Regions from separate parts of the Homo sapiens genome. Here region 2 is linked to region 1. The links come from fine-mapping of genetic effects on gene expression. Tissue or cell type: whole blood. Region 1 holds a variant in brackets; the other region holds the start of a gene. All regions are shown on one strand. Distances are between the middles of the regions.

What was found. PIP is the estimated chance that this variant, and not a neighbour inherited with it, causes the effect.
Region 2: CTSE starts here. The variant in region 1 is fine-mapped to the expression of CTSE in whole blood (TOPMed, PIP above 0.99).

The regions. Positions count from the first base shown.
Region 1 is chr1:206,059,663-206,062,418 of GRCh38, reverse strand. All of the region lies in intron 1 of RHEX (regulator of hemoglobinization and erythroid cell expansion), which reads right to left. All of the region lies in intron 2 of LOC105372857 (a long non-coding RNA gene), which reads left to right. Among named protein-coding and RNA genes, the nearest start is that of RHEX, 7.9 kb to the right of the region's middle. The variant A/G (reference allele first, on the strand shown) is at 1,437.
Region 2 is chr1:206,022,908-206,025,535 of GRCh38, reverse strand. It overlaps CTSE (cathepsin E), which reads left to right and starts at 1,641. Exons shown (of 9, transcript NM_001910.4): 1 at 1,641-1,812; 2 at 2,479-2,628. The coding sequence starts at 1,745.

The DNA.
Region 1 (2,756 bases):
AGCTCAGAGGGCTTCCTTGTTGGCCAGGCTGTCTCAGGAGCCTGCCTCTGGGGCTGGGGGTGATCTGGACGAGCATGTCCTGTGTTTCTTGTATGTCACTCCTTTCTATTAGAACAGTACTTTGATTCTAATAAATCAGAAGAAATGTCTAGCCATCCACCTCCATCAGAATATGTTTTACGTTTTATTTTTATTTATTTACTTTTTTTAGAGATGGAGTCTCACTCTGTTGCCAGGCTGGAGTGCAGCGGTGTGATCTTGGCTCACTGCAACTTCCGCCCCCTGGGTTCAAGTGATTCTCCTGCCTCAGCCTTCCAAGTAGCTGGGATTACAGGCATGCACCACCACACCTGGCTAATTTTTGTATCTTTAGTAGAGACGGGGTTTCACCATGTTGGCCAGGATGGTCTTGATCTCTTGACCTGGTGATCTGCCTGCCTCAGCCTCCCAAAGTGCTGGGATACAGGTGTGAGCCACCGTGCCTGGCCTATGTATTTTTTTTTTTTTAAACACACACATAAATCTAAAGCAAAGGGTATGCCAAGATTCAGCTGGGGCCAGGTCTGACCCCCACTCTGAGCATCTCATTAGCTTCCCATCAGTGGAATACAATGGAGACATATTCCACTTGGTCTGGCAATGTCCTCCTGGGGTGATGAAAAGGGGGCATGTTGGTGTAGACAGCAAAGTCGTCCTCCTTCTGGGGAGCCAGGTTGATCACGTTGGAATATATGGCATCAGCATGGCAGGAAAGATCCTTTAGAGATAGAACCCTGGTTAGAGGCAGATGGCTGGGCACCAGGGACTTCCAAAGACAAAACAAGGCATTGGGCTGTCCCTACAGGACAGCAAGTAGAATGCTGAGTTCTTGCTGCACAAGCCCTAGATCTCAGTTTTCATAGGCATTTCCTCCAGATCTGCCCCCCGCCTCCTCCCACCACCCTCTGTGTGGGGTCTAGGTAAGGAAGCAGCCAGAAGGCCAGGATCCCCCTCTCTACATGCGACTGGACTAGTTCCTTACCGAGGACTTGTGGGGAAAGTTGGTCTGATGCCTCAGTTGTTTCTTAAATAGTCCTAGAAAAATGGATAAACTCAGAGTCAGTCTGAGTTGGGTTAATAACCATCTTTACTTGGTTGTTTGCTGGGTTTAGGGCTTAACTTTGAAATGCAAAATCCACCACACTCAGCCCATTGGGCCTCTGAGACTAAGTTAAATTCCCAGGAAGACACAGGGGAAATGAGTACGCTTTATAATTTATAATTTTGTTTATTATTTAGAAGAGATTATTTGGCATCAGTATTTCTTTTAGCTGAGGCATATAGGCCATAAGCATATATGCAGATGGCTTATACTATATATAGCTTTCAGCATGAAGAACTTGTGTGATGAGTAATTCTTATTGCTGTGTACAGAGTCCCCAGCAAGTCTAGAGAAG[A/G]GGTCTTATCTTCATATCTCCTTCATATTACCCTCCCACTACCCGCTCCCCTCCCCGACAAGACTGCCCCATAGGAAAAACACCCCAATCTCTGCCCCCAGTTTCTCCTCTCTTCATTCCCAGTTCCAGGGCCAGCTTGTTCAACTCACTCTCTTGCCTCCATTTCTTCAGGGTCATGGACAAGAGACCCACCAGGAGCAAGATGAGGGACACCACAGCAATGGAGCCAGAAAGGGCTGTGGCTGCTGTGCTTAGGCTGAAGGAAGCAACTAAGAGACATGAGGACCATCCAGCTGCTCTGGCTGGCTTTGGTGACCCTCCACAAAAGTGCCCTGGGGCCTCCTCACCCATGTAGAAGCTCTCCCACTTCCAGGCTTCACCTCCTTAGTGGCCAACCATCTCCTGCCTCCATTTTAGCCCCTCTTTTCAGCTCTAGCCTCCATCACCATGGCCCCCACTCACACCAATCCCCACAGATCCTTCCCCAGGAGCCCACCTTCCTCCTTCATGGATCCAGCCCTTCTCTCACCCACCTGCTGAGTCCTGCAGTGTTAGTCTCTGGCTTCAGGGTGGTGATGTTCTCTGCATAAGGGGAAGGAGAGGAAAGTAATACGAAGGAGATAGGAAGGTAATTCTTGCACACCTATGCAAATGAGCTCTACAGAATCCTAAATGGTAATATTAGCTACTGTTTATTGTGAACTTAGTATATATTGGGCACATTCATTATCTTGTTTAATCTTCATATATAGACCTGAGATAGGAACAATCATTATTCCTATTATACAGTAAAGAAAAACAGTTCTTGAGGATCACACTTGCTCAGGGTCATAGGGCTGGTAAGTGGCAGAGTTTGGACATAAACCTCCATCTCTCTGACTTTAAGTCGTGTGTTCATACACAGTATATTCTGCTGCCTCCATGTGATTGTTTCACTCCAGAGCTCTACCATTCTTACCAAGGGTTAGCAGATATGACAGGAGGTCCAGAAAAAGAGATAACCAGGATGTGCAGTGCTAGGTACCTGGGGGAGGGCATGTGAGAGGGGTTGACAGGATCAGGACATAAGCAAGGCCAGTAGAGCTACGGCTAGGAAGAGGTGGCAGGCGTGGGAGCCTGCCCATGCTCTGGTGGGGAAGGGGAGAATTATTCACACCAGGAAAGAATTTCTCCTGCCTCGAGGGATGGAGACACAAAGTCCATCCCCTCTCCAGCCACATTCTGTCCATAGATTCTCAGAGCTAAAAGGAATCTTAAACCCTCCCATTGTATAGGTGAGGAATCTCAGGGGAAGGCACTTGCCTGAGGCAAGTGCTGTAG
Region 2 (2,628 bases), 37 kb after region 1:
AAACATGGCAGAGTTTACTGCCAAAATGAATGATCTCCACTTCTAGCCACTTCTGACTCAAGCTGCCCTTCTAGGTTTAGACCACTCTCCCCAGTGAAAGATCAACAAGACGGGCTCCTGGGAAATGCCAAAGAGGCTTTGTTGCCTTGGGTTCAGGGGTCAAAGGTCTAGGCTGTTCCTTAAGTCTTTTTGATGTCTTTTTTTAACATTTTTGGACCCAAGGGTGGGTTTGGCTTAGCTCCATACTCCACGTTTGCTTGCCATTTGAACTTCAGAGATGAAAGGCAGATCCCATAGCACTTAAGAGATTTTCCAGAACACTAGCTGGTCAGGGCAGAGCTAAACCTAAACGCAGGCCATCTACTTCCTACTGCTGAGCTAGTGCCCTCTGGAAGCATTGGCATATGGTGGTGGCCTCTGCTGCCCTGGCTAACTTGAGTCAGGGTCAGGGTCTTCCTACCTGTAACCCCTTCATCCCCACCCCAGGCACTGAAGCCCCACCATCTGTTTATGAGGCGGGTGGCCACAGAGATAGGCTGATGGTGAGGGGGTTTCACACACTGCGGTAACTAAGGCCTGAGCCCCACCCACTCTCCACCCCTGCGCTTAGTCCCACTTGACAGATAGAAGATCCTATTGTCCCTGAGCACTGTTAAGGGCTGAACTTTGTCCTCCAAAATCCATGTTGATGTCCTAACACCTAGTACCTCAGAACGTGACTGTATTTGGAGATAGGGTCTTTAAAGAGGTATTAAGGGTAAACGCAGTCATTAGGGTGGGCCCTACTCCAATATGACTAGCGTCCTTATAAGAAGAGGAAATGTGGATGTGGACACAGCCACACGCTGAGGGAAGACCCATGTGAAGACACAGAGAGAAGGCAGCCATCTGCAAGCCAAGGAGAGAGGCCTCCGAAGCAACCAAGTCTGCCAACACCTTGATCTTGGACTTCCAGCCTCCAGAATAGTGAGAAAATAAATTTCTGTTGTTTAAGCCCCCTGTACTTTGTCATGGCCGCTTTAGTAGACTCATGCGGGCACTTGCTGTAGACGCTGACCCCCTTGACCCTCCCTCGCTGCCCCTGCATTCTCCTCCACACACCCCTGAGCCCCAGCCCCAGATTCATCAAGTCCTTAGAGTCAGGAGAGTGGGCTCCATAAATCTGCAGCTACATTTTCCCATTTCAGGGCCTTTGAGGAGTGCTGGTTTGTGCTTCAAAGTGGGCCAGGGAAGGATAAACTGCCTTTGGAGCATTTGAGAGATTGAGGAGAGAACAGGAATCACCCAGAAAACAGACTGACGAATATTTTGAGTTAGAATCCTGCCACCCATGACAAGTCAGCTCCCACCCCTCCAGAGTCTCCAGCTAGAGCACTTGCAGTAAGAGTTCAGTGGGCCTTTCCAGGCAGCCAGGCATGTGCTGCCCTCCGGATTCATTAACAGGGTTTCTTGGGGTCAGAGGAGGTGCCAAAGCCCTGAGAGAAGCCAAGCCCCAGAGGACTCCCAAGTTCTCCCCGCAGACTCATATTCCTCTTGTAGGTGGGAAAGGGACGGAGAGGTGCAGGGGGAACGCCCTGTTCCACATGCCGTATTTACTCTGGGCATGGCTAATGACTCCAGGGCCTTATCATTCGGCCCTCAGACTGGGCTGGGCAGGTCTGAGAGTTAGGGAAAGTCCGTTCCCACTGCCCTCGGGGAGAGAAGAAAGGAGGGGGCAAGGGAGAAGCTGCTGGTCGGACTCACAATGAAAACGCTCCTTCTTTTGCTGCTGGTGCTCCTGGAGCTGGGAGAGGCCCAAGGATCCCTTCACAGGTGAGAAGACGTCCCCGCACTGTGTTCAGCTGGGTAGTCCCATGCCCTGCAACTCAGGGCTGCTCTGGGGTAGGAAAGCTGATGGGGAGGTGAAGAGGAGGAGAAGCTGAGGGCTTGCGTCAATGCATGGAAGAGACTCATCCAGTGACCGCCTGTGTATGGCCTTAATCTCCAGTCCTCAACAAGTCATCCTCCTGCCTCCACCTCCACGGAGGTGCCTTCCCAAGTCCCAGGGGTCTTCTTGTGTTGCAAAAGAGCAGGAACCTGCAGTTGTGGTTTGTAGCTCAAAGCGCCCCAGGACTTCCCCAGGGGACTGACCATCACTGTCCCCAAGAGTTTTTCTGTCCCTTTAAATCAGCCCTTCGTGATGTTCATGTAAAACTGTAGACCGCCCCACATCTCCCATTTTCCTAGATCTCAAAGACCTCAGCTCCAGGAGGGGAGCCATTTCCACTCTAAGATTCTAAGACTCTATAGGGCAGAGATGAGGCCGGGCAGGCTGAGTGGCAGAGAGGACGCTGATCCCACCTGTATCCTGCGTGCTGTCTTGCAGATCCCCCCCTCCCACCCCATCTTCTCTAGTTGGCCCCTGAGAAAATGGGACGAGAATGGGGGGAAGAGGGAGGCAGAAGTACATCTCCTGCTTACATGGGGGTTTGTCTCCAGGGTGCCCCTCAGGAGGCATCCGTCCCTCAAGAAGAAGCTGCGGGCACGGAGCCAGCTCTCTGAGTTCTGGAAATCCCATAATTTGGACATGATCCAGTTCACCGAGTCCTGCTCAATGGACCAGAGTGCCAAGGAACCCCTCATCAACTA